7 linked regions of the Homo sapiens genome follow. The protein of the gene in region 2 purifies or fractionates together with the protein of the main gene of each other region. This does not show direct contact. Each region holds a gene or a part of one and is shown on either strand. Other genes may lie near its edges.

Region 1 (4,401 bases), on a different chromosome or scaffold from region 2:
GCAATTTGCAAACATCACATGAGAATATGAAAGAACTATATTTGTGTGTATACCTTTAAAGAAAAAAAATTTTAAGGTTTTTTCGTTTTTGTTTTTGTTTTGAGATGGAATCTCACTCTGTTGCCAGGCTGGAGTGCAGTGGTGTGATCTCGGCTCACTGCAACCTCCACCTCCCGGGTTCCAGCGATTCTCCTGCCTCAGCCTCCCAAGAAGCTGGGACTACAGGCGTGCGCCACCATGCTCCGCTAATTTTCGTATTTTTAGTAGAGACAGCGTTTCACCATGTTGGCCAGGATGGTCTCGATTACTTGACCTCATGACTCGCCTGCCTCGGCCTCCCAGAGTGCTGGGATTTTTTTGTGTACTTAAACTATAGACCCCATAAGCAGTGTACTTCAACGTGAGGAACTGGCCTTAAAATATTTAGCTTAGTCAGGGCGCGGTGGCTCACGCCTGTAATCCCAGCACTTTGGGAGGCCGAGGCGGGTGGATCACAAGGTCAGGAGTTGGAGACCAACCTGGCACAACATACCGAAACCCCGCCTCTACTAAAAATACAAAAAAATTAGTCGGGCATGGTGGTGCATGCCTGTAGTCCCAGCTACTCAGGAGGCTAAGGCAGGAGAATCGCTGGAACCCAGAAGGCGGAAGTTGCAGTGAGCTGAGACTGCACCACTGCACTCCAGCCTGGGTGACAGAGTGAGACTCCGTCTCAAAAAAAAAAAAAAGAAAAAAAAAATCTAGCTTAAGTACAAGTAAAATGTATTGACAATAAAGGTTTTTACACAGTAGAAAAAGACAAGGCTAGTTTTTCAATATATGTCTGAATATCAGTATAGGCATAACCAGCCCTGCTGCTGGTATAAAGTATGATGTATAAAACAGACTTAAATACTGTTAAGAAATAATTATTGGAAGCTCACTATCAAGAATCCAAAGGTAGCAGAAAAAAAAAGGAAAAAATATATATTAAAAAAAGAAAACTGAAAAGAGGAAACAATCCAAAGGAAACAATCATTCGTTCAGAATTCTGAGAAAGAAGCTAATCCCATGAAAATTTCAAGAACTAGATAAAGATGCTGCCAGGAGCCCAGGTGCAATTTATAGAACCCTTGTCCCTAGTTCTATTAAACTAGACACTGGTAAGTGCTGGGAATACAAAAACAAATTCCATTTGGTCTCTGCCTTCAAGAAGCATATTTCTGGCTGGGCACGGTGGCTCACACCTATAATCCCAGCACTCTGGGTGGCCGAAGTGGGTGGATTGCTTGAGCCTAGGAGTTCCAGACCAGCCTGGGCAACATGGCAAAACCACATCTCTGCAAAAAAATACAAAAAATAAGCAAGGCATGGTGGTGTGGCCCCTGTATTCCTAGCTACTCAGAAGGCTGAGGTGGGAGGATCACTTGAGCCGGGAAGTCCAGGCTACAGTAAGCCATGACCGTGCCACTGCACTGCAGCCTGGGTGACTGAGCAAGACCTTGTCTCAAAAAATAATAAATGAGCAGAGTAGGGGTGGATGTTGAAAAGACAAGGGAACAGGTGAATTGCGGAAATGGTGAGTGTGAATTCAACATTTCTGATCCTTTGGATAAAGGTCTTGTTATATTCCAACACAGCTTGAGTGAGTGAGAAGCTTCAGGACAGTCTTTGTACATTTTTTTAAAGCATTTTATTTTCATTTCTTATTGCACGCAACATTTCTAGGCATCTGACTCCTTGTGAGCAGGGAGAAAATGTGGAGAAAGAGAGGGAGTACACAAAGCCAAGTTTCATTATGGTCTCTAACTTTAGAATTGACCTTAAAAAGGGAGACAGACATGTAAACTGATCACTGAAATGTCCAAAAATCAACTCATGATTCTCAGCATCTCCACAGTTTTTCTTTCCATTTCCCCTTTACCAGTAGCACTACCAAATACCTAGGTTTGCTCAGTCCCCCATGAGGCAGTCGTCCTTGAATCCTTCCTTTCCCTTGCCCCAAACATCAACCCATAAACAAAGCCTGTTGGTTGATCCTACTCCGTCAATATCCCAATTCTGTCTACATTTCATCTCCTGTTATTGTTCTAGTCCAGGCCATCATCACCACTTGTCAACTTCCAAAGCCTGATGTGCCTCACTGCTTCCACCATAGCTTCTGTCCAAAGCATTCTCCATACAGAATCGAGTGACCTTTTTAAAACTTAGGGAAGTCACTTAACCTCCCTAAATTTTAGTTCCCTCAACTGTAAAATGGGGATTATAATAGTGCCTACCCTCCTCTGATTGCAGTGCAGATTAAATGAGATAATAACCAGCACCTGGTGTTTGGCTTATAATAGGTGTTCAATAAACGTCATTATCCTGAGCCAATTCCTCCTCCTCCTCCTCCCAACTCTCCTTGATTCAGCCACAATGGCCTTCACCTTTTCCTCCAACGTGTCACAATCTTTTTGCCTAAAATATTCCTCCCCTCCCCCATCCCTTCCCTGCCCCCACTGGCTTTTCACGGGCGTGGCCCCTTATTTAAACCTAGGGCCGGGCGCAGTGGCGTAGGCCTGTAATCCCAGCACTTTGAGAGGCCGAGGCAGGAGGATCTCTTGAACCCAGGAGTTCGAGACCAGCCTGGGCAACATAGTGAGACCCTGTCTCTAAAAACAAAACAAAAAACTTCTCAGCCTAAATTCTCACAAGACCTTCATCTTATCAACCTGTTTATTTCCTTTTCAGTGTTCGCCAGGATGCGAAAGCACTGTCTATGATTGCCCCTGTGCTCTTTGCCTCTACCCTCTTACACGTAAAACCATCACACCTGGAGGGAAAAGGTTCCTCGAAGTGAAGTCAGCTCCGGAAGTGGGGGGGCAGGGGCGATGCAGTCTGGGAGTTGTAGTCAAAGCTGCTCCGAAGCCACGCAGCCGAAGAGGCGGTCGTTCTATGCAACATTCCTGTGAAAATTACCCAGCTGTGACTGTCGAAGGGAAAAAGTCACACTTACCTATATCCGGGATCCCACGCCGGAGCTCCAGACACACAAGGGGGACAGCAGAGAGGAAGAAAATGCCAACAACCCCACGTGAAGCCATGGTGGCGGAAGCGCCTGGTGCAGGCGGAAAGCCCGCCCCTTCCGGCCGCGTTTTCCGGGAAGGAAGTGGAACTCTTCTTGCCGCGGGCCGGCTGGGAGAGGGTCAATAACGTGGTAAATACTGACGGCCGTGTCGTTATTGAGGGGGAGCTAAGCCCCGTGTTTTAAAGTTATAGTCTGTAGCCGTGTTTCAGAAGAAAGGCAAGTCGTCCCCCAAGTCACATGATGTCCAGAGGAGCCTGGGCTCTAGAGCGGTGGCTCCCTGGAGGGTAGCAGGGCAGGGGCTGCCCCTTCGGTCTTTGCAGCGTCTGTGAGAAAGCGCTTTCCAGAGGGAAATGAAGCCGAAGAAAAAGCTGATGCTGTGAGGAGGCAGCCTGGGCCCCCCGGCCTTGTGGCCGTATAGGATGAATGTGGGCTATAACACCTTCCTTATCTCCCTAACGGTTCCTGGTTCCTGGCCCCGTCCGCAGTCTCTGGTTCCTGCGGAAAGACAACTCGAAAGTGGGGCCTGGCTCCAAATACCTGCCCCCTAACACGCACGTCCTAATGCCAGGTCCTGGAGACCCGCTACCCCTTGTTCCGCCCCTTTTCAGTTTTGCCTGCACGCGTTATTGTTAACCTTGACTTCATAGTTCCATGACCTCATTGCCGTCCTATAACTCACCACTGTGCACTTCTCCCAAGCTACTGAGGTCCTCCCAATCTACAACATTTCGTACTTGGAAATTATCTTTCCTGGCCAGGCGCGGTGGCTCACGCCTGTAATCTCAGCACTTTGGGAGGCCGAGGCGGGCGGATCACAAGGTCAGGAGTTCCAGACCAGCCTGGCAAATATGGTGAAACCCCGTCTCTACTAAAAATACAAAAATTAGCCGGGTGTGGTGGCGGTCGCCTGTAATTCCAGCTATTCGGGAGGCTGAGGCAGGAGAATTGCTTGAACCCGCATGCGGAGGTTGCTTTGAGCCGAGTTTGCACCACTGCACTCCAGCCTGGGCGACAGAATGAGACCCCGTCTCAAAAAAAAAAAAAAAAGAAAGAAAGAAATTATATTTCCTGGCTAAGCGCGGTGGCTCACGCCTGTAATCCCAACACTTTGCAAGAAAAAAGAAAATTCTTTTTCCTGACCCATCCATCTAGCATCCCACCTGACTATTCAGTTTAGTTCATCTGAAATTTATTGAGCTCCACAGTTTGGTACTCTACAACTCTTGGATATTCAAATATTTACAAGTTACTGAATTTGTCCTCAAGAAACTCAGCTTATCCGACTTTGTGGTTCTATGGAGAAGAAAAAAAAAAACTGGGAAAGATAGCCCTGTAAGCAAATAAACATAATG
Region 2 (4,118 bases):
GCTGGAACCAGGTCCTTAAGAAGGGTGGGAGATGGGATCTGGGGCATGCAGGGTGGAGTTGACCTCACTGCCAGGAGAGAAGGCAGGGAGGTGGGGTTGGGAGCTCTGTGCCGTGGGGATAAGTGAGGACGGGGAAGTGAGTGTCGGAGATTGGAAGAAAGGGGAGAGGTGTGAAGTAGCCGTCTGGGGAAGGGAGAGACAAGGGACTAGGGAAGGATGAGATGCCTGCTGAAAAGCATGAATGACCCACTTAATGTCAGTGGTCTCTAATTTAAAATAAGACCCATCCGCATGGCTGACCGATTTCCTCCAACCCTGATGGACAGCTGCGTGGATGCAGCATGAACCAGATTGGGACTTGGCTTGAACTGAAGGGCTATGGCTTAGCCAAGCAAGGACAACCAAGCAAGAGAGAGGCCAGGGAATCAGGGTGGATGCCCCGGAGTGACTCCAGCGAGTGTGGGTGGAATTGAATCAGAGGAAGGAGAGAAGGAAACGGGCAAAGTGGGTGAAGCCTAGAGAAGTGGTGATGGTATCAATGAGGTGTGGGCTATGGGCATTTGCAGAGTTGTGGGAGCTGGGGAATCAGGCGGAGTAAGCTAGAAAGGAAGAGATTTGAGTCAGAAAGTGGGATGAGTGACACTAAGATAAGACAGATGCTTCTGTCACTGCCAATAGCAACATCTAGGCCCCAGTGCCACCCAGCAGACCTTTCTGCAGTGAAATGGCCTACACCTGGGCTGGACAGTACCACTGGCTATGGTTGGCTGTAGCACTTGAAATGTGGAGCTGTGTTTTAATTTTATTTCATTTAAATTTGGGTAGCACATAGGCTGGTGGGTGTGAGTGGCTGAGGCCAGATGAAGGATGAGGACTTGATGGGGCAGGGTGTTGGAAAGACCCTCTCCCCTCTGGAGGCATTGAAATCACAGAGAAAGTCAGCAGGAGTGCAGTGGAGAGTGGCAAGAGCCGGGCGGAAAGCTTCAAGGATAGGCAGTGGCCGGGGTTACATCGTTGGCTGCAACAGGCAGAACCAAGAGGAACTGTGGGAAGAACCGAGATTCCAGGCTCAGTGTTTTTAGGGAGGAGAGAAGGAAAATGGTCTGGAAGCAGCCATGATTTGCTGTGGGGAGGGAGGAACTTCTCACCTCCAGACGCAGCCGTAGGAAGAGATGCAGCCGCCACCGCCTGAGGACTGAGGGGTCAGTGTCCCCAGGGGAGTGGGGGCCTGCTTAAAGCAAGATGGGGAAGGCCCAGAACAGATGAAGGGCCCACAGGGGTGTGGAGTTGGAGCTTCGTGAAAGAGGGTTGGCTGCTGGGATGTGCTTGTGAGTCCTGCCATTTGTTTTAGTTATTTTTCTACAACCAGCAGCTTCTGGCTTCCTTTCTTCCTGATGTTGATGTTCTCACCTCCCACAATCTGAGACGAGAGGTGGATTTTGCAGGCTCAGAGAGGATCAGCACCCTGCCCGAGGCCCATAGTCAGCAGCCCTTCCCCGGGTCCCCTGGGTTCCCCTACCAACCCCCCAAAGGCTGCTGCCTCCTCCTGGTGCCCTCTGAACCTGTTCTGTGCCCTGCAGGTGTTCGGCGTCCACCTGAACAAGTGGCAGCTGGACAAGAAGCTGGGCTGTGGGTGCCTCCTCCTGTATGGTGTGTTCCTGTGCTTCTCCATCATGACTGAGTTCAACGTGTTCACCTTTGTGAACCTGCCCATGTGCGGGGACCACTGAGCCGCCGGGTGCCCACAGAGGCTCAGCTCCTTCTTTTCTGTGCAATACGAGACCCGGCCGCACCCCGAGTCACACAGGCCCCCGGGGCCACGGCGTTCGTCTCTCCTGTGCTGTCCTCAGGCCTCCGCTCCTGTTTTGGTGGCCCAGGCTCTCCCCTGACCCATCCTCGCTCCCCCACCTCCTTGGGTCATGCCCACCCACCCTTTCCTGCCTCCTCCGTGTGAAGACATCCAACATCCACGTGACTTTTCCAGCTCCATTTTTGAACAGTGACTGAGATTCTAGAAAAACTGGCTGCTAACTGGCCTGAGCCAGGCAACACTGATTCCAATCCCTCCTCCTTTTTTAAGTTATTTGATGGAAGACTCACCTAATTTGTGACCTGAGACTGTTGAAGAAATAGAGAGGAGGGGGCCCGTTGATTACAGAGAGCATTTGGGATTTTGTTTGGTTTGGAGATGATGCCTAGGTTACTGGGTTTGGGGGGATTGTTTTCTTTTGGGGGCCTTCCCCTTTTACTCCTTTTCTTCCAGAGATCAAGAGCTTCTCTTGCATCTTCTTCCACTGGGCTCTGGATTAATCAATTACCCAAAGGCTGCACCTGCCGTGTTGTCTGGGCTTGCATCCCAGATGTGTTGGAGTATGCATGGATGTAGTGCTTTTTAGAGGAGCCACTGGGCAAGGCCACCAAGAACAAATGCATGACATTTTATAGCCAAGGACGCCTCGCTAAAGTCTTATGGGCGTCCCCTGGGGTTGGGGGGGCACAAGGTTTTGGAGGAAGAAGACAACTTCCCTCATTCCATCATCACCATCTCTTTCTCACTAGGTTCTTTCTAGTTTTCAAGCAATAGTTCTAGCCTGCCTTGGACAAGGGGGCCCCAGTTAAACAAACTACCCATCCATGAGCTGCCAGGCAGTCAAAAACAGAAGCTTCCCCGACTTGTGAGTCCCTGAGATGTGCTCTTGTTGTTTGGCATTTGGGGTGACAGGGAGTGACCCAGAGGCCACCACTGCTTTTCATGCAGGAGTTACAGACACTGGTTTCTTGGAAAATGGAGAGAAGCGCACTTTGCACAGACGTCGTCAATTAAGTCCCAATTTGCCACTTGGTATTGAGTACACTGGACCCTGACCACTGGCTCTTGGGCAAACGTCCTTCCTCACGGGGCGCCTCCGCCAAGCCGGCCCAGCTGCACCCCTCCCTTCCTGGAGGGATGGCCAGGGAAGGAGAAAACAGAGAACTGACACCTTTGAAACCACAGAATGTGTTACATGCAGACTCGCTCAAGGGCATAAGTTATTGTGAACGTTTTTGCCAATCACTGCTCAACAGCCCTGCTAGATTTTGTATGATGCTGAATTATTATGCAGACTAATTCCACCCAGTTGAGACACACCATGCTTGTTCACTTGTATTTATTGAAACTGTGGATTCTTGCCCGTGCTGTCCCTTGTATTTACTTTAAGCACTGATCACTTATCATTCATTCGGTATGGTTTTCCCTGTCCCTTGTACACATTCTGGTATGAATTTGTAAAAATAACCTGCTACAAATTGGTTGAATGTTTCTGTCTGTGGTGCGAACCAGCATTAACGGATGGGGCACGTGCCCAACTGAGGAACAGGAGAAGAAATCACCAATTTGGGCTCTCAGAGCTAAGACACACTTATTGATTCTGTTGCACATTTTGCACTGGTTTATGGCGATTGTTTTCTTGGACGGATAGTGTAAAATAAACTTCTCTGTTCTCTATCCTTCCCAGAGCAGAGTGCATTACTTTCTCCCCTGGAAAGCTGTGCATTTTTCATTGAGGAGAATGTATGGGAGGTAAAATGATTGTAGTCACTATGTGGCCAGGCATTTGCCACCTGCTGTTTCTGCGTTGCCTCACCTGGAAAGCTGGCGTACGTGTGGCAGATTACGAGAATGAAGTGGCCAGCTGTGGGTCCCCTCTAAATCTTGAAGGGACTTTAGGCCTATCATCCTGTCACAGAATTCCAGAACTCTACCCGTCCTAGAATACATTAGTTAAGAATTCATTCTTTCCATTGAACATGAGAGAAGGAGCATCACAGTACTGATGATGACATTCTGGAGTGGCCAAGTTCTCCATTCTGTCTGATTTTAGTAGTTCTTAATCGTGAAAATTAAGATTTCCCCAAAGCTGATTCCTTAAAAGTGACAATAACATAGTTGTAATAAGCCATGATCTGATTCTAGGTGATGCTCAAGAAATAACTACCCACATCTAAATTAGTAAACACAGAGAGCTAGGCTTCCACCAGAAATGCAGCATAATTCATTTATAAGAGGCAGAAGAAAAATAGCCACTAATCCACAGCACCAACTTTATTTAACTGTTGAAAAATATATATTCCCAAGG
Region 3 (4,569 bases), on a different chromosome or scaffold from region 2:
TCTCCAGCCTCAGCCTCCTGAGTACCTGCGACTATAGACGCACGCCAACATTTCCTTTCAGAGAGCAACCGTTAGGTTACACATACGAAGATAGCCAGACAAATCACTGTATGAGAGAAACAACTCAGACGTTTCTTCTAAAATTCTGCAATTTGCCTAAAACCATTTGCTACCAAATAAAAGTTTTGCCTTGCTGTCGTAATAGGGCAAGAAGCTTTAAAGGATAAAGTATATTTTGCCTAGTAGGCTTGAGATATGGGTTCGTGAGATGTTCAATTAACTCTGAATAAGTGAATCTGGGAAAACCAGAGGTAGAAGATGAATAGAGATAATCAAACAATTTTAAATTCAAAACTTCATTTTTGCAAAGAGTTTCAAATTTATGCCCCATCTTTTAAAAAAATGGATAATAAAACTGAATGTGTTTCAACCACCTTTCTATTTCTGCTGGCTAACTAAAGAAGATGCAAATGAGCAGTAAAAAAAAAGAAAGGCATCAAAAGAAAGAAGAAAACCCAATGACTAGGACATCTCACATCTGGGTATCAACCTGTGAACAATTAGAGAGCTGACTATAAAATATAATTAAAAGTAAGCAATATGTAAAATATCTTTAAAACATTTTTATTCATGAAAGCCATTTGGTTCTCAACAGAATGGCCTCATTTATCCAGAAATCTCACTATGTTCAAAATGACTCATTTCTATAGGCTGGTTTTAATTGTATTTGTAAGATAACATGACCTGGTATGCAAAACAAAAAGACTTAAGAATACAATATAAATACTATCATGAATTAACACAGCTTTTTACATCATAAAAACCTGCTAAAAATCAAAAACTTCTGCCACTGTGATTATTACTGTATTAGCAAATTATTAATAGAAGTGTAAAACCCCAAAAAAGCAACTTAAACCAAAATAACTAAACCTAGACTACTCAACAACAATAAAAACCCAAAGAGCTCTTTACCATTAGCTACACTAATTTTCTGTTTTTCCAGTCAATTTATGAGGCAGGAAATGCGTCTGTGAGATCCATATGCTTTGTTCCCAACGCTAAAGAGAACAATTTCTACTTCTGTGAATATTAAAATAGCTTCAATAATTGTAGGAAATCTAAAAATAAATGGGAATTAGTACTGTACTGTCACAAAATGATTTTAACCAAACTCTTCAATGCGGTACAAAACTAAAGTGACCTACTTCAATCTATTGGGAGTTTCCTAATTATTAAACCAAAAATAAGGAGGGAATTATAATAGCTCTATTTTCAGTTTTTTAAAATACTAAACTAAAAAGGTTTGCTTAGAAATGAACAGAGACGACAGTAACATGTCAAAATCTTCTCCTTCGATAGCATCCCTACCAAATGTTTCCACTCTCTTATCATCATAAATGCAAAACCAAGGTAAGGATCTAAACACAAATGAAATCTAAATTTACTAGAATTTTTCCCATGGGAAAGAATGCTCTTCAGCAATTTAAACCTTAAGTAGTCTTAAGATCAAAATAATAGCAGCGTAATCAAGTAACAGGCTTCCTCCATAATGACTTGTACAAAGAAGCAATCAGGACTTGCATCCTTCACCCTAAAAAAAAAACTGCTGTGATTTTAAGAGTATACTAAAAATGTATTTTATCAATATATGTTATAGTGCATATACATTTTATGGTAGGGAATTATTACAATAGGTAGTCCATAATTAAGAGATGCACTTAGAAATAAAAGAATCATTCGGAAAAATTCTCTTAGGACAGTTGTGTAATTTGTCTGCGCCTCTTTTTACAGCTAGTCATGAATGAAATTCTAGATCCTACTATGCCGAACTAACGAAGCCATTGATTGAAAACATTCAAAATGGCATGGAAGCGGTAGGGGTGGAGAGAGAAGGGTTGGCTCTCTCTTAAACTCCGAACCCAGCGAGAAAACAAAAATAGCACCATGAAATAGATTTTGTATGCAACTATTAAGAGGCTCGGCTGCTGAGAGACATGCATAAACACAGGTATGCACACACACAGGCAAGCCCACACACGCACGGCCCCTTAACCTGCAAAATAAGAGGATCTGCAACATCTTTCCAAGAGGGGATCTAGTTTCCAATTCAATGACTCGCCAGTTTACCCATAGGCAAAACCCTGGAGTCTCTAAAAACAGCCTTGGGAACTATCTAGCCAATATACACTCTGCAGACGCTCGGTCCCTTTCTAGAAATGCGAAATCTGACGAGCAGATCACCGGGCGCGAGGGGAATTTAGGCGCGTGGGAAGCAAAGGAAGGTCCTGGGGCACGGGTTAAGGCAAGAACGCGAGAGGGATGGAGCTTCGGTTTAGGGAGAAGGGTTGAGGCTGCCTCTCTGGGCATGAGGGGGGCTGGGCCCGGCCAGTCAGAAGAGCTTGTGCCCAGGATTTGGGGCTGGGGAGGAGGCGGAGGGACAGCGGAGTAACTACGAGGACGACCACGAGGATGCTCTCGGGAAATCGTCTAACAAACACCCCACCGTGAAGAAGGGACACAAAGGGGAGGTGAGGGGGGCAGAAGGGGGATGCAGAGTCTCCCCGGGCGGAGAAAACAGAGGCGAGGACGGGACAGGGGGCCCGAGAGGCGCAGAGAGCCAAGGCAGGACGAACCCACAGAAGGAAAAAGGCACCAGGGGCCAGAGTCTTGGAGCGCCCGGCTGAGGAGAGGGCAGAACCTTACCTGATACTCCGGGTACTCAAACATGTAGCTCATACTGCACTTATTCTCCTCGAAGCCGAAGAAGACATCCCACAGCCCCAGGGTTGCCAGAAAGACCATGAAGACATAAAACGCCAGGTTCCAGAGATTAACTGAGTGAAGAAACATGGTGCCGCCACCACCGCCGCCGCCGCCGCCGCCCCCTCTACCTCCTTCTCCGCCGCGGGGCCCCAAGCCCGGACTGAGCGTGCTAGACACTGTCCGACCGCCACCCCCGGAGCCGAGCCCCAGCCGCGCGCGCCTGCGCTGATGCCCGGCCTGCCCGTTCGCCAGCCGCGCAGTGCGCCTGCGCGCACCAGGTCCGCGGCGCCTCTGGCCTGGCGACTCCCAGAGCCGAGGGAGGAGTAGGTGTTGCAGCGCGAGCGCGGATCTACGGGAAAGAGAAAGAGGGAGAAAGCAGGGTGGGCTGGGCTGGAGGGTGAGGGGAAAGAAGGGAAGTGGGGAGAGAAAGACGCGAGGAGTGGCTGGCGGGAGGGAAAGAAGAGAGAGAGAGGAAGCATCCAGAGGGGGATGGGCGGAGCGCGGGAGCCCTGGAGACGAGCCGGGGGATTGGGCAGGAGGCGGGTGTCAGATGGGTGAATCTGGGGAGGGGACTAGAGCCCAGAGTCCAGAGGCGATTAAGGACCGAGAGCGGACCGAGAGAGGGGAGGAGGACTTAAAAGCCCAGGGGTCATCAGCTGTCACCTCGCAAACGCCTCTCCCTGCGGCAGTTTAAAAACGCTTCCCGTTCAATTTTGAAAAGACTCAGGCCTCCGCAATTTCGGTTTTCCCAACGGTAGTAGAGCACACTCACAGCTCTCTGGAGCAGTTAGCTTGAAGAGGGAACAAATGGCTTTATTTTCCCTCTTCTACCGCCTACTTGGGCCCAGTAGGTAACAGCGCTTAAAAGCACCGGCTCATTAAAAAAAAAAAAAAAAAAAAAAAAAAAAACACCCGCAAGCCGACGAGATTCTGCTCTTGGTATCAGATGAAAGCCTGAATCACAAAAAGCATCGTTAGTCCTTAAAATATGTTACCAAAATATCTATTAGCACTGACGTCCCCAACAGGTATCTGCGTAATCAGTTTGACGCTGACTCGCCTTGCTCTCCAGAACCTCCATCTCTTGGGGAATGGGTTCCACGTTAACTGGAGGAGGCAATTTCGTCCAGCTTCCATTCAAACTCGCAAATGACTTAATTCGTTTTGAAGAATTTCGGTTCTGTTTTGTACAAAGGAGGAGTTTTTAAAAAAAGCTCGAAATCAATCACTTGTAGCAGCTTCAAAACACTAGAATGTTAGGAAAAAGACATCACTCTTTAAAGCTGACTCAACAGTAGACGGTGTGTGTGTGCGTGTGTGTGTAGTAACCACAGGATTCTTAGAATGGTCTTTGGCACTAAATGAATTTCATTGAACTTGGGCTGATTTTCTGGTATATTTTCTGTGCAGAGGAAGTTTGGCTACAATACATAAAATCAAAGAATTTTAAAACCAAAAGGAAGCTTATAGTTTATCTTGTACAACACCCTGATGTTCAGATTACGAAACTATGAAGAAGAAGTGGAGTGATCCTGAAAATCAAGATAGTCTTTACCCTGCACAGAAACAGTTGCAAGTCTAAACAAACACAGCTAGCTACGGAATGTGGAGTATTGACGGAGAAAGACAGAAATGGGAAAATGCGGAAGCAGTCTCCTTTTTTGTAGGGAGATAAGTCTGGAAAGACCAGGATAACAGGGGAGCTGTAGGTGGTACTGATCAGGAGGGCAATTAAGTAATATGTCATTGAAGTAAGTCCTGTATGAGACGTGTCGTTTTTGTTTGTTTTGAGACTGAGTCTTGCTC
Region 4 (3,833 bases), on a different chromosome or scaffold from region 2:
CTGACTAAATCTACATTGTCATAGAGACCATAAACCTGTGTACATAGTTCCAAATGGGGTAGCTTTAGGCTTTATTATTCATATGTTTAATCCTAAATTCCTGTTTTGCTAGTTCTTTTGCCATCAGCTTGTACTTCAGCCAAACCATTGAGACATTACTCTTCCAGGGGAAGAGGCTGCTAGTTTTATTTAGTTACTGTTAGAACTGTTTAGTTATAATGGTTACTAGTCATCAAAGCTAGTAAAAATTACGTCTATATCTGGGTCTAGATGTTGTTTAATCTCATAAAGGGCAGTTTCATTTCATAGGGAAGATCAGTTCTCCATGGAGGACCTTTCATAATTCAGTCAAGAATCACTGAATATAAATACATTTAAAAAGCAGAATAATTTATTTTCAGAATACATAAATCTACAACTATTGTAGCTTGATTTTGTGCTTTAATACTGCTTTCTATTTTCTCAGCATTCTCACTATTATTTTTTTCCTGAGAGCTCTTAATAGCTGTTTGTGTTTTTCTGGCATCTTTCTCCATATTTGTGGCTGATTGTCAGGTGTGTTTTTCAGCACGATCACTATCACATAAAGAATGTTTGGATGGCATTTTGTAATTTTAACTTTATTAAAGCAGCAATTGTTAACATAATAGCGTAGCTGTCACCAAGACCACTTACAGAAGTTCTAGTATGGTTTATTGTACTGATCATGAAAACGTGTGATTTTATCTACTAGTTTACAGTAGCACTAATTGTAAACACAGTTTATAAGTCACTTGACCAGTTACTTTTGAAAACTTGTTACCTAGACAAATTATTAGTTTAGGGAGATTGTTGTAATTGAGAAGAGCGAGGCTTTATTAATATTTTTAATACTAAAATTTGTCCAAAGTGCTACTACTCTGCCCTTTGGGCAAATACTTTTCCTATTTCCTAACAGTAATTACTACTTTTTATAATATAGCTTTTCAGTGTTGGAGTTGTCAACAGCAGAATCTTTTTCTGCGGGTTTTCATATTAATCATAAAGTTCTTATGTAATTGTTTTCCGCTAAGTTTAAAAAGTTGTTGTTGTTTTTTGAAAATGAGACCTTATTTCTCACTCTTTTCTCATCTTTCATATCCATGGGAATGTTATAAAAATGTAGAACTTAAAGGTTACCCTCTTAGAATTTTCTTGGTGAGAAAACTAAAATAGGGCCAGGTGAATGGCCCAATGTAATTATTGAGTTCAGCAGGTGAAGTTTGGGATTGAAGTTGAGTTCTCTTGTCTTTGTTAATTACATCCGTGTAAAATTGTAGGTTTCAGATCTAAAGTCTAAGGCATCTGTCAAAGGCACATTAGTGGGAAGTTGACCTCATGTGTCCCATGACCCTAGAGCTCTTTTGACAAGAGCTTTACTGGCTTCTGGTCATTTGGGGGAATCACTCTTTTATATCTTTATGGTCAACCTGTCAGTCTCTGGGGTTTTTTTATATGATTATTTTTGAAAACTATTTAATTGAATTTTTTTGTGTTGGTTGGCTTGGCAATGATATAACAACACAGTAAAATAGTAAAAAACTGTCACAGTTTTCTTAGTCACTTAAAAGATAAGCAAGATTTGTGATACCCAGGGGAAGCTTGCAATTTGAGGGGAATGCATATCTTACCATTGGAATGGGTTATCAGTTAATGAACTTGTTAAATCTCTTGCTGAATATGATGGGGCCTGGACGTGTGTTGTAGGTGTGTGTGGTTCTCTTTTTACTCTAGTGGAGAGATGCAGATTCTACACTTTTTCCATTAGGTTTACTAAAGTTTTACAGCTTCCCTATGCATGCTCAGAAGCAGATCATATTATCTTGGTTGTGTATCTTATCTAGCCATTTGTTCTTAAAACAATAAAATGCACTTTTTTAATAAGAAGAAAGTTACTTTATGAAAATTACTAATGTAGATTACTGTTTGATTTTGAAATGTTTGCGTCAAAGTCATTCGAATCAGAGCAAATCCATTTCGAATGGAGGCTGAGTAAAATAAGGCTGAGACCTACCAGGCTGCATTACCAGAAGGTTAGGCATCCTAAGTCACAGGATAAGATGGGAGGTCAGCAAAAGGTACAGGTCACAAAGACCCTGCTGATAAAACAGCATGCGGTAAAGAAGCCAGCCAAAACCCACTGAAACCAAGATGGCGATGAAAGTGACCTCTGTCATCCTCACTGCTCATTATACACTAACTGTAATACATTAGCATGCTAAAAGACATATCCACCAGTGCCATGACAGTTTACAAATGCCATGGCAATGTCAGGAAGTTAGGCTATATGGTCTAAAAAGGGGAGGAACCCTCAGTTCCAGGAATTGTCCCCCCCTTTTCCAGAAAACTCATGAATAATCCACCCCTTGTTTAGCATATAATCAAAAAATAACCATAAGTATGAGAATACTATAAGTATCCTTAGTCCAGCAGCCCAAACTGTTCTACCTATGGAGTAGCCATTCTTTATTCCTTTACTGAATGAACTTGCTTTGGACTCGCCCGGAATTCTTTCTTTTGCAAGATCTAAGAACTCTGTCTTGTAGTCTGGATCAGGACCGTTTTCTGGTAACATTTGTATTCATATTATGTGAGGATAAGACTTTTAAGGGAAATTAGAATTTATTGTCTTCAAAACACTTACGTTGAGTAGTTGTATTAAGTATTGCCTAATTTAATATCTGTACATATATACATATTTAAAATATGTGAACATTTACTTAGTGTATTTCTCTGTTTAGAAGCCTAATTATATTCCGCTTTGGGATGGTGATATATACTTTCCATGCTCTCCTGTTTTCATATACTGTATTCACTTTAAAATAAATCGTTTTGTCCTTGATGCTCTTGTGATTTCTAAGGCATTTCCTCCTGTGTGCTAGTGCATCCTCTTCGTTGAATGTGCTTAACATCTTCGAGCCTGAGCTTGGAGTCAGAGAAACCCAGCTCTCCTCCAGGCCTTGCTGTATCCCAGTCATGTGCCCCTGAGCCTCATGGGAAAATAAGACCCATATCTGCCTCAAAGGCACCCCTAGATCATTTTTGCTTAATATGTGAAAGGGCTCTCTAAACTGCAACTGACAAACAGATGTTAGACATTTTCATTGTAATTAAGTTTTCTAATTTTTTCTTAACTGTTGGAAAGCACAGTTTTGCTTAATGCAAAATATATGGAGGAGATTCTGATTAACTAAAGTTGTGCTTAAAACCATCATCATGTAGACCACTGATTTCTAGATCTTACTAGGGGCAGTAGTTTCTTCAGATCATGACTGAATTTTATTTTTATTTATTTATTTTTTGAGACGGAGTTTTGCTCTTGTTGCCCAGGCTGGAGTGCAATGGCGCAATTTTGGCTCACTGCAACCTCTGCCTCCCAAGTTCAAGCGATTCTCCTGCCTCAGCCTCCCAAGTGTCTGGGATTACAGACATGTGCCACCATGCCCAACTAATTTTTTTTTTTTTTTTTTTTAGTAGAGACGGGGTTTTGCCATGTTGGCCGGGGATGGTTTCGAACCCCTGACCTCAGGTGATCCACCCGCCTCGGCCTCCCAAAGTGCTGGGATTACAGGCGTGAGCCATGGAGCCCGGCCTTCATGACTGAATTTTAAAAGCAATCTTGCTTCTCACTTTGAAACTCAATATCTCTATTAATAGAGTACATTCCTTCTTTTCCAATTCAAAATAGATTTCTTTCCCTATTCAAAATAGAAAACAAATTAAAACTGCCAAACCTACCAAGGCTTTGTAGTTCGGGGAGCAGGAAAATCAAAATGAAAACAAAATTCTCAGAAAATAGCTGTGCAGTCCACCTG
Region 5 (3,833 bases), on a different chromosome or scaffold from region 2:
ATTTAGGTCAAATTAATTTAAATATTAATTTTGAACACCAAAAGTGTTTCTTTTTTGTTACACAACAATTTATTCTATTTAGTCTGTATATAAGCTTTACATGAATATGACCAAAGTAAACTCTTAGTTTCCTTTTTTCAGACAATCAGTCTTTGATCGAGGCTTAGATGGTACCAAATAAAAGGCATATATTATCAAAACCAAAAAGCCAATCACCACTAAAGGTCAAGTTTGTTAACTTTAAAATGGCTACACGATTTTCTGAGAATCTCTTGGGTTTAATTCATAAATTGCATCTTTCCTCCAGAGTCTATATTTAGCTCTTTTTCTCTTCAGGAAATATTACACTTCTAAAGAATGTAATTGAATTTGACATCTTAAAGATTTAGTAGTTCTCTAAGGCTACTCGATTCTTTCTCCTTTATATGCAAATTAAATGTTATATTTTAATCACAGAAAACCATCTTAGAACTCGGAGGAAAGTAACTAAATATTATTATCCCTATTTAACATTCTAGGCATTCAGTAAACATTTAATAATGAGCCCTTTGCTGATTCATTGTGCATATTGCTTTTGCTTTATCCTCTCAACTTGCATGGAGAAACATGACAAGAAATAACTTTTTAAAAATCATAAATGGGCCAGGCGTGGTGGCTCATGCCTGTAATCTCAACACTTTGGGAGGTCGAGGCGGGCAGATCACCTGAGGTCAGGAGTTCAAGACCCGCCTGACCAATATCGTGATACCCCGTCTGTACTAAAAATACAAAAATTAGCCAGGCGTCGTGGCATGCGCCTGTAGTCGCAGCTACTTGGGAGGTTGAGACAGGAGACGCGCTTGAACCCGGGAGGCGGAGGTTGCAGTGAGCCAAGATCTTGCCACTGCACTCCAGCCTGGGCAACAGAGCAAGACATGGTCTCAAAAAAAAAAAAAAAAAAGTCATAAATGTATTTGCTTTAGATAACTTTTTCTAATTCATTCTTCCTTTTGAACAACGAGTCCTATGAAACTATATTTTCCTTTTCACTTTACTACCAGAAAGCTCAAGAACAAATTCACTGCTTAAATTAACTACAGCAACTTAGTAGGATCTTGTAGATTATGTATGGGCATTCTCTTTTTAAATTTTTAGCTGTGACTTCATATTCTGATTCATATTTTCCTTGGTTTTGCATTTTATTTTATTTCTATTTTGTTCTTTCATTATATGTATTTTTTTGCAAGATACCTCAAACCTTTGTGAGATTTGGAGTATTAATAAAGAGAGCAGATGCGATTGTTCCAGAGAGCTTCAAAGACTTGTCCAAAAGCTGAATTGCTTTTTGAAAGAAATTCCATTATCACTTTGATTGGATATGGTTTTCATAGTATCATTAATATTGCTTAGTCATTCATATAAGCAGAGGCTTTTATTTTTATAGTGTTTAACATTTCTAAGTTTGATTTCAAAGTGGCCCTGTTCAGAATCCTGATTCCATATGGCAATTCAAACTGAATTTTGAGCCACACCAGAATTTGGTAATTACATTTAGTACTATTACTTTTGCTAAGATATTTTTGAGAGCATATGTTAAATCCACTGAAGCTTTGATTCTTTTTCATAAAATTTTGAAAGGTTAAAATAGTAAAATGTCAGAAATGAAACCAAGCTCATTACCTTTTGAGTTATTTCGGCAGGAAAATTCCATGGAGAAAATACATAAGGATAAGCCTACATAGAGTTTAAAGCTAAATTTTAAAAGAACTTACAATAGCTTGAATTTGTTGATTTGTTTTTGATTTATAAACTGGCTTAATCATCATTTCAAACACTAGTTTGAAGAATTTTGTCTATATGTGATATGTAAACATTTCTGAATAACTATTTCATGTCACTTTGAGAGGGAGCAATGATTTCAGATAAAATATCCCTCTAAATCTTGCCTTTTGTGCCTAATATAATATTTATTGTATTTGACATGGATAATGCTTAGGAAATAATTCTAGGGCTTGGATTTGAATCACACTCAGTAAGTTTGGTATGTAGAAGTGAAACCCTTAGCTGGCAAGCAAGGTCAGTTAGCCATCTGATATATTGTTTTTTTTTCTTTTTTTTAATTATTATTATATTTTAAGTTTTAGGATACGTGTGCATAACGTGCAGGCTTGTTACATATGTATACATGTGCCATGTTGGTGTGCTGCACGCATTAACTCGTCATTTAGCATTACGTATATCTCCTAATGCTATCCCTCCCCCCTCCCCCCACTCCACAACAGGCCCCGGTGTGTGATGTTCCCCTTCCTGTGTCCATGTGTTCTCATTGTTCAATTCCCACCTATGAGTGAGAACATGCGGTGTTTGGTTTTTTGTCCTTGCGATAGTTTGCTGAGAATGATGGTTTCCAGCTTCATCCATGTCCCTACAAAGGACATGAACTCATTTTTTATGGTTGCATAGTATTCCATGGTGTATATGTGCCACATTTTCTTTATCCAGTCCATCATTGTTGGACATTTGGGTTGGTTCCAAGTCTTTGCCATTGTGACTAGTGCCACAATAAACATATGTCTTTATAGCAGCATGATTTATAATCCTTTGGGTATATACCCAGTAATGGGATGGCTGGGTCAAATGGTATTTCTAGCTCTAGATCCCTGAGGAATCGCCACACCAACTTCCACAATGGTTGAACTAGTTTACAGTCCCACCAACAGTGTAAAAGTGTTCCTATTTCTCCACATCCTCTCCAGCATCTGTTGTTTCCTGACTTTTTAATGATTGCCATTCTAACTGGTGTGAGATGGTATCTCATTGTGGTTTTGATTTGCATTTCTCTGATGGCCAGTGATGATGAGCATTTTTTCATGTGTTTTTTGGCTGCATAAATGTCTTCTTTTGAGAAGTGTCTGTTCATATCCTTAGCCCACTTTTTGATGGGGTTGTTTGTTTTTTTCTTGTAAATTTGTTTGAGTTCATTGTAGATTCTGGATATTAGCCCTTTGTCAGATGAGTAGGTTGCAAAAATTTTCTCCCATTCTGTAGGTTGCCTGTTTACTCTGATGGTGGTTTCTTTTGCTGTGCAGAAGCTCTTTAGTTTAATTAGATCCCATTTGTCAATTTTGGCTTTTGTTGCCATTGCTTTTGGTGTTTTAGACATGAAGTCCTTCCCCATGCCTGTGTCCTGAATGGTATTGCCTAGGTTTTCTTCTAGGGTTTTTATGGTTTTAGGTCTAACGTGTAAGTCTTTAATCCATCTTGAATTGATTTTTGTATAAGGTGTAAGGAAGGGATCCAGTTTCAGCTTTCTCCATATGGCTAGCCAGTTTTCCCAGCACCATTTATTAAATAGGGAATCCTTTCCCCATTTCTTGTTTTTGTCAGGTTTGTCAAAGATCAGATAGTTGTAGATATGCAGCATTGTTTCTGAGGGCTCTGTTCTGTTCCATTGGTCTCTATCTCTGTTTTGGTGCCAGTACCATGCTGTTTTGGTTACTGTAGCCTTGTAGTATAGTTTGAAGTCAGGTAGCCTGATGCCTCCAGTTTTGTTCTTTTGGTTTAGGATTGACTTGGCAATGCGGGCTCTTTTTTGGTTCCATATGAACTTTAAAGTAGTTTTTTCCAATTCTGTGAAGAAAGTCTTTGGTAGCTTGATGGGGATGGCATTGAATCTATAAATTACCTTGGGCAGTATGGCCATTTTCACGATATTGATTCTTCCTACCCATGAGCATGGAATGTTCTTCCATTTGTTTGTATCTTCTTTTATTTCATTGAGCAGTGGTTTGTAGTTTTCCTTGAAGAGGTCCTTCATATCCCTTGTAAGTTGGATTCCTAGGTATTTTATTCTC
Region 6 (3,833 bases), on a different chromosome or scaffold from region 2:
TTTAGTATTTATTTTGTATTTTTAAAGTGTATTTTATGGCCAGGCACAGTGGCTCACACCTGTAATCCCAGCACTTTGGAAGGCTGAGATGGGCGGATCACTTGAGGTCAGGAGTTCCGAGACCAGCTTGGCCAACATGGTGAAACCCCATCTCTACAAAATACAAAAATAGCCGGGCATGGTGGCGCATGCCTATAATCTCAGCTACTCAGGACACTGAGGCGGGAGAATCATTTGAACCTGAGAGCCAGAGGTTACAGTGAGCTGAGATCGCGCCACTACACTCCAGCCTGGGCAACAAAGCGAGACTGTGTCTCAAAAAAAAAAAAAAAAGTATATTTTATGATTTTTTAATTAACCTTCCATAGTCTTAAAAATCATTTTTCACAATTTCATTAAGCCTGACAGCCACTACCAATAACTGCTTTTTAACTTTGTTTTACTGAAATCTTTTCTTAGCTTTGTTACATTGCTTGTTTTCTGATTTAATATATATATTTTTTGTTTTTGGAGGGTATCCTTGAGTAATTCTTTGAGAATGTTTTGAGTCCTTGGATATCTGAAAATAACTTTATTTATTTATTTTAAAATTTTATTTTAGAGATGGGTTTTCACTGTATTGCCCAGGCTGGAGTGCAGTGACTACTCACAGGCACTTTCATAGAACACTACAGGCTTTAACGCCTAGCCTCAAGTGGTCCTCCCACCTCAGTCTCCCAAGTAGCTGGGAATACCAGTGCATGCTACCACACCTGGCAAATGGCTTTATTTTTGCTTTCATGTCAGTAAATATCTTTTTACTTGGGAACATTGACTACATGGCTCCATTATTTTTTTCCATCTAATGTTATATGTAAGAATTCTGATGCTAATCCCAATTCTTGTATTTTGCAGTTCTCTACTACTTCTGCTACTTCTCTTTGATAGAAGATTGTACTTTTTAAATCCTTTGGAAAACTCCATATTTTATGGTCTTTTTTCATTTATCCTGCTTCACATTTATTAGATCCTTTCTGTCTGAAGATTTTCATCTTTTGAAACAGGAATTTTTCTTCTTTGTGGGTTTTTTGTTTTTGTTTGACGTGGAGTCTCACTCATTCTTTTGCCCAGGCTGAAGTACGGTGGCATGATCTCTGCTCACTGCAACCTCCGCCTCCTGGGTTCAAGCAGTTCTCCTGCCTCGGCTTCCCAAGTAGCTGGGATTACAGGTGTGTGCCACCATGGCTGGCTCATTTTTTTATTTTTAGTAGAGATGGGGTTTTGCCATGTTGGCCAGGCTGGTCTCAAACTCCTGACCTCAAGTGAACCACCCGCCTCGGCCTCCCAAAGTGCTGGGATTACAGGCATGAGCCACCGCACCCAGCCTATAGATTTTAATTGTTACATGTCTTCTTCATTTCATTGGGATTTAAAGAAGAAAATTATGTACATTTAGCCAGCCATTTGAAACCAGTTCTGTTGAACAATAAAAGCACAGGAGTAGGTAATTTTTTATATCATCACATTAAAACTACCATGAAAAATAAAATGGAGTGTTAAGAAAAAGAGTAGCCATTGAGTTAGGTTTTTTTTTTTTTCAGTTAAAAGGCTGTACTATATAGTGTTCCAAATAGATTCTTTTTAAAATTTTAGCAAACACTATAAATACAGAAGAGAAAACGCAGGGAAAGAGGAAGACAGGAAGAGAAGTTTGCAGACAGATCTACAGGGAAAACACTGAGACACTTTAATTTGTATAGGATGATAAAAAGATGCATTTATTAAATATTTGCATCTGTGACAAAAAATCAAAATATGGATAATAACATTGTTAGGACCAGTACCCTTGGAGTTATAAAAATAGTGAACAAAATTTTCATCCATCTTATCATCTATGTTGGATATGCCACATAGGTGTCCATAAAGGTACCTACAAGTTTATGCTAAGTGAATCCTACAAAAAGATGCTTAGATTCCAGAGAACGTCTCATAAGTGCCAAAGAGGATAGGTGTGCAATCTGTAGTAATACAAGAGAGAGTGTGAGAGAACTGGACAGGAGGATTCAGAGGAGATTTCAAAGGACTTGACCCATTTATGCAGGAGGTTGCAATTTTTTGAATTGCAAAATGAGACCTTGGCAATGACCTTGAGCAGTAGGATATAAATAACTCCTACATGCTTAGTGTTCCACTAATGGAACACAAGGCATAAATGGGTTAAACTGGCTCTTAAAGAATGAATACAATTGGATGAGTACCTATTCAGGAGAATGGAACAGAAATAGAGGCAACACAGCATACTTATTAAAAATTATTCTAGAGGCAGATTGCTGAGTTCAAATTTTGACCATGTCACTTATTTGCTGTATCACTTTGGTTTATTTTTTACTTATTTTTTTTAATGTGGCCTAGATGAATTAATGCTGTGTCACTTTGGAAAAATGATTTCTCTGTGCCTCAGTTTTTGTTGTTTTTTTACTAAAATGAGAATAATAGGACCTACCTTTTAGAGTTGTTATAAGGAATAAATTAATCCACATAAAGCATTTAAGACAATTTATGGCATCAACTATAATTGTTAGTTGCCATGATTATCATCATCATCTTCATAGAAGGACATTTTGGAATTACAAATGGATAGATTGTATTCATTGGCTAGTAAATGAACCGGCCTGCTTCGAATACACAATTCATACTGGGAAGTAGTAGAAGAATGTGTTGAAGTCAGTTGGAGTCCACACCATGGTGGTCTTGAATTCCAGGCTAAGAAACAGTTAATTATTATTCTTTTATTGAAGAGGAAACAAAAAAGTTATATACAATGTCTGAAATTGCCTAAGTCTTTTTTTGGGGGGGCAGGGGAGGCAGGGGGGGCGGGGTACCGAGTCTCACTGTCGCCCAGGCTGGAGTGCAGTGGCACAATCTCGGCTCACTGCAACGTCCACCTCCTGGGTTCAAGCGATTCTCCCGCCTCAGCCTCCTGAGTAGCTGGGATTTTTCTATTTTTAGTAGAGACAGGGTTACACCATGTTGGTCAGGCTGGTCTCGAACTCCTGACCTCATGATCCACCTGCCTCGGCCTCCCAAAGTGCTGGGATTACAGGCGTGAGCCACCGCGCCCTGCCAATTGCCTAAGTTTTAACTAAAACGCCCAGCATTTGAACTGCTCTTTGTGTTTCCGTCCATTCTACAGGGATTCTGAATGAAACCACTATTTTAGGAAGATTTATTTCAGTAATATCCATAAGGCCTAAATTTAGGTGATGGTGAGAGAAATGGGTAAGGAAGGGACAAGTTCCAAAAATGAATGGAATTGAACTAGATGATCTTTTGGTTCTTTTCTAGCTCAGACATCACTGATGACTTTCTTACCTCTCTAGCTTAGATAATCTTTACATCATATGATCTACTGTATATAATTTTTTATTTCCAGAATTTGTAATATATGTTTTTCTCATGTATGCTTTTCTACAGGTTTTAGATGGAGCAGGATTAGATATTGATTTCCATCTTGCCTCTCCAGAAGGCAAAACCTTAGTTTTTGAACAAAGAAAATCAGATGGAGTTCACACGTAAGTAATCTCTTTTAGTTGAGTTTCATTGCTGAATAATACCAGTGGGTTATCTGCAGGGCATGGAAAGTTAGCACATTTGATACTACATATCAATATTAGATAATTCCATATGATTTAAAACAGTTCATGATAGTGTGCCATCTGATAAACAAAAACATCTTCCATTAACCTTTCTATTTTTGTTTAAGCGTTTTCTTTTGATCCAGGCTAAATTTTTTCTGTGCTTTGGTTAGTAAATTAGTATTCCCCTGGTATTCCATTCAATCTATCGTGGCATTT
Region 7 (3,833 bases), on a different chromosome or scaffold from region 2:
CAGCTTAGAAATGGGAGGTGGGTAGATCTCTAAAGCTGTCCTGCTTCCCAGGAGTGCCCCATAGGTAACTCCTAACAAACTCACCTACTGGCCATGCTGGACCTGTCCAAGTCATTCTTTGGTCTCTTGACACTCTGGTCATTTGGCACCTTCCCAGTAAGGAGGGAGGGGATGTTACAGTCTCAAGTTTTTCTTGTAATAAGTTTTAGACATCCAAAATAATGAGAGAGGGAAAGAGTTGGGGAAGGTGGAGGTGAAGCAACCATTTTCCCACTACAAAAGCATAGCCTGAAACTAAAGACTGCAAAGTGGGTAATATCATTGAACTGCTAGACCAGCTTTGATCTGTTTATCTATAAAATTTGTGTTATATTAGAAAAATCAAACCCTATCTGTTTTTTTTAATGATACTGTAGAAGAGTATTTAATGACATAGAAAACTGTTCATGATAAATTAATTAAACAAAAAGAGCTAATTATAAAACAGCATGATCTCATTTTCTGTTGTTTTTTTTTTTTTTTTTTTTTTTGGAGACAGAGTCTCACTCTGTCACCCAGGCTAGAGTGCAATGGCGTGATCTCGGCTCACTGCAACCTCTGCCTCCCGGGTTCAAGAGATTCTCCTGCCTCAGCCTCCCGAGTAACTGGAATTACAGGCGTGTGCCACACCCCACGCCCAGCTAATTTTGTATTTTTAGCAGAGATGGGGTTTCACCATGTTAGCCAAGTTGGTCTCAAACTCTCAACCTCAGGTGATCTGCCCGCCTCGGCTTCCCAAAGTGCTGGTATTACAGGCGTGAGCTACCACGCCCAGCCCGTGATCTCATTTTCTAAGGAAAATAAATGTATAAACACCAAAATATCAACAGCAGTTTTCTTTAGATGATAAGATTATAGTGCTTTACATTTTCTGTATTTTCCTCATCATTCCTAACGTACGAGTAAAACCGTGTCATAATAAAGTCTCTCTGGTATTGAGGTTCAAACTGAATTAGAAAATACGAAATTTTATGCTGAAGCAAGTTGTGTTACTGTAGTTCTTCAAAATATTCAGCAAACTCTCCAAAATGAGAACTACAGTTAAAAAAGAAAGCAATTGCACTTTTAATTTTTTTTAACATTTTCTTATTTGGAAATTACACTGACTACAAATTTGTCTTATCTGGACACTCCTGTATTATTATCATTAACATGTTTGATGGAAAAAAAATAAAAACATTCCTCTATTGTTTGGGAGATTAAGGCGGGAGGACTGCTTGAGGCCAGGAGTTCAACACCAGCCTGGGCAACAGAGTGAGACCCTGTCTCTAAACACCAAAAAATCCCTCAATTAGGTAATTGAATTCATGTACATTTTAGACTCTGCTTAACATAACTAGGAATCAAAGGCTCTATAAAAATTTTAAGGAAATATTTTTTTTCAGTTTTAAAAATGGAAGACTATATTTTAAATTATAACTAAAGTCATATGTAAAAGAACATACCAATGAGCCAAAACCTAGGGTCCAAAAATGTTCATTTCGGACTTCTAAAACTCCATCTAAGGTAGATACCTACCAAAAACAGAAAGAGGTGATCAGAGTTGTCTGTACTTAACATATCCAATGCAGTTTAGTCACATTATGGACTTAGTTTAAACTTAAGAATGACAGCCAAATCCTGCACAAGGACACTCATTAGCTAAGAGAAGTCTCAGACCACTCAAGATACCATTCCTGTTTGTTCCATACTGACCCAAGACCTTGCTTTCCTCGTTTCTTGCTTGCCCCAATTCTTTTAGAATCAGGTCCCCACTGCTCAGTTTTAAACCCCTACCCCAACCAATTTCTTCAACAGTGTATGGTTCTTTTCATATCAATATGGAATATATTTATATCTAGCACTTTGTGGTATCAGATTTTTTACTTAATTTTTTTGTTTTCTCAATCACTTCTTTCTCTGAAATCCCTTATAACAAATCTCTGCACAACACAGGATGTTGTTTGGATGTGAGTCTAGAAGAAATTCCAAGGCCAGATATATAGTGTGTAGCCCACTGGTACAGTTGCACAGGACACATACTCAAGGCCAGGCTTCACTAGTTGAGAGTAGTAGCCAGTTATACTGGTAAAAGTGGCCTCTGTCACACTGACAATCAAAGGTTTAAAATAGTTTCAACATCAAAATAGTTCATTATTTTATTTCTTCATTAGTTAGTAGGTGGAAATTTGTAACAACTTAAAAGAAAGTCTAGGCTGGGCATGGTGGCTCATGTCTGCAATTCCAGTACTTTGGGAGGCTGAGGTAGGCAGATCACTTGAGGCCAGGAGTTCGAGTCCAGCCAGGCCAACATGGCGAAACCCTGTCTCTACTAAAAAAGTACAACAATTAGCCGGTGGGAAGCAGAGAACACGGCACTGCACTCCAGACTGGGTGGCAGAGTAAGACCCTGTACCCCCTGGAAAAAAAAAAAAAATCACAGCATTTGACCGGGCACAGTGGCTCATGCCTGTAATCCCAGCACTTTGGAAGGCCAAGATGGGAGGATGGCTTGAGAGCAGGAGTTCAAGACCAGCCTGGTCAACATAGCAAGACCCCATCTCTTTTTATATATATATTTTAAAAAAACAACAAAAGGCTGGGCACAGTGGCTCATGCCTGTAATCCCAGCATTTTGGGAGGTCACAAGGGGCGGATCATTTGAGGTCAGGAGTTCGAGACCAGCCTGGCCAACATGGTGAAACCTCGTCTCTACTAAAAATACAAAAATTAGCCAGGCATGGTGGTGGGAGCCTGTAATCCCAGCTACTCAGGAGGTTGAAGCAGGAGAATCGCTTGAACTCAGGAGGCGGAGGTTGCAGTGAACCAAGATCATGCCACTGCACCCCAGCCTGGGTGATAGAGCAAGACTCAGTCTCAAAAAAAACAAAAAACAGGCTGGGCACGGTGGCTCACACCTATAATCCCAGCACTTTGGGAGGCCGAGGCGGGTGGATCACGAGGTCAAGAGATTGAGACCATCTTGGCCAACATGGTGAAACCCCGTCTCTACTAAAAATACAAAAGTTAGGCCGGGCCTGGTGGCTCATGCCTGTAACCCCAGCACTTTGGGAGGTCGAGGTGGGTGGATCACGAGGTCAGGAGTTCAAGACCAGCCTGGTCGAGATGGTGAAACCCTGTCTCTACTAAAAATACAAAAATTAGCCAGGCATGTGGTGGGCGCCTATAATCCCAGCTGCTTGGGAGGCTGAGGCAGAAGAATCACTTGAACTCAGGAGGCGGAGGTTGCAGTGAGCCGAGATTGTGCCACTGCACTCCAGCCTGGGCGACAGAGCGAGACTCCATCTCAGAAAAAAAAAAAAAAAAAAAAAAAATACAGAAGTTAGTTGGGCGGGCCAGGCGCTGTGGACATGCCTGTAATCCCAGCACTTTGGGAGGCCGAGGCGGGTGGATCACAAGGTCAGGAGTTCAAGACCAGCCTGGCCAACACAGCGAAACCCTGTCTCCACTAAAAATACAAAAATTAGCTGGGTATGGTGGCTTGCATCTGTAGTCCCGGCTACTCAGGAGGCTGAGGCAGGAGAATCACTTGAACCTGGGAGACGGAGGTTGCAGTGAGCCAAGACGGCACCATTGCACTCCAGCCTGGGCGACAGAGCAAGACTCTGTCTCAAAAAAAAAAGAAAAAGTTAGCTGGGCATGGTGGCACGCGCCTGTAGTCTCACCTACTCAGGAGGCCGAGGAAGGAGAATTGCTTGAGCCTGGGAGGTGGAGGTTGCAGTGAGCTGAGATTGCGCCACTGCACTACAGCCTGGCAACAGAGCAAGACTGTCTCAAAAAAAAAATAACTAAAT

What was found.
Region 1: the proteins of SLC24A3 (region 2) and UBXN8 purify together in Homo sapiens (affinity purification with mass spectrometry; one large-scale study listed by BioGRID and IntAct). This does not show direct contact.
Region 3: the proteins of SLC24A3 (region 2) and PGAP1 purify together in Homo sapiens (affinity purification with mass spectrometry; one large-scale study listed by BioGRID and IntAct). This does not show direct contact.
Region 4: the proteins of SLC24A3 (region 2) and DPY19L1 purify together in Homo sapiens (affinity purification with mass spectrometry; one large-scale study listed by BioGRID and IntAct). This does not show direct contact.
Region 5: the proteins of SLC24A3 (region 2) and FAR2 purify together in Homo sapiens (affinity purification with mass spectrometry; one large-scale study listed by BioGRID and IntAct). This does not show direct contact.
Region 6: the proteins of SLC24A3 (region 2) and TMED5 purify together in Homo sapiens (affinity purification with mass spectrometry; one large-scale study listed by BioGRID and IntAct). This does not show direct contact.
Region 7: the proteins of SLC24A3 (region 2) and SLC30A6 purify together in Homo sapiens (affinity purification with mass spectrometry; one large-scale study listed by BioGRID and IntAct). This does not show direct contact.

What each region holds. Positions count from the first base shown.
Region 1 is NC_000008.11:30,742,854-30,747,254, reverse strand, and holds the start of UBXN8 (UBX domain-containing protein 8), read right to left. Parts: upstream 3,092-4,401; 5' UTR 3,066-3,091; coding exon 2,978-3,065; intron 2,928-2,977; coding exon of another isoform or gene 2,795-2,927; intron 1-2,794. UniProt on the Homo sapiens protein: Involved in endoplasmic reticulum-associated degradation (ERAD) for misfolded lumenal proteins, possibly by tethering VCP to the endoplasmic reticulum membrane. May play a role in reproduction.
Region 2 is NC_000020.11:19,719,411-19,723,528, forward strand, and holds the end of SLC24A3 (sodium/potassium/calcium exchanger 3 precursor), read left to right. Parts: intron 1-1,580; coding exon 1,581-1,730; 3' UTR 1,731-3,516; downstream 3,517-4,118. UniProt on the Homo sapiens protein: Calcium, potassium:sodium antiporter that transports 1 Ca(2+) and 1 K(+) in exchange for 4 Na(+).
Region 3 is NC_000002.12:196,923,767-196,928,335, forward strand, and holds the start of PGAP1 (GPI inositol-deacylase), read right to left. Parts: upstream 2,942-4,569; 5' UTR 2,851-2,941; coding exon 2,704-2,850; intron 1-2,703.
Region 4 is NC_000007.14:35,027,326-35,031,158, reverse strand, and holds part of DPY19L1 (protein C-mannosyl-transferase DPY19L1), read left to right. Parts: intron 1-3,833. UniProt on the Homo sapiens protein: C-mannosyltransferase that mediates the C-mannosylation tryptophan residues on target proteins.
Region 5 is NC_000012.12:29,327,164-29,330,996, reverse strand, and holds part of FAR2 (fatty acyl-CoA reductase 2), read right to left. Parts: intron 1-3,833. UniProt on the Homo sapiens protein: Catalyzes the reduction of saturated but not unsaturated C16 or C18 fatty acyl-CoA to fatty alcohols (FAls). A lower activity can be observed with shorter fatty acyl-CoA substrates.
Region 6 is NC_000001.11:93,159,847-93,163,679, reverse strand, and holds part of TMED5 (transmembrane emp24 domain-containing protein 5 isoform 1 precursor), read left to right. Parts: intron 1-3,453; coding exon 3,454-3,551; intron 3,552-3,833. UniProt on the Homo sapiens protein: Potential role in vesicular protein trafficking, mainly in the early secretory pathway. Required for the maintenance of the Golgi apparatus; involved in protein exchange between Golgi stacks during assembly.
Region 7 is NC_000002.12:32,207,213-32,211,045, reverse strand, and holds part of SLC30A6 (zinc transporter 6), read right to left. Parts: intron 1,554-3,833; coding exon 1,485-1,553; intron 150-1,484; coding exon of another isoform or gene 85-149; intron 1-84. UniProt on the Homo sapiens protein: Has probably no intrinsic transporter activity but together with SLC30A5 forms a functional zinc ion:proton antiporter heterodimer, mediating zinc entry into the lumen of organelles along the secretory pathway.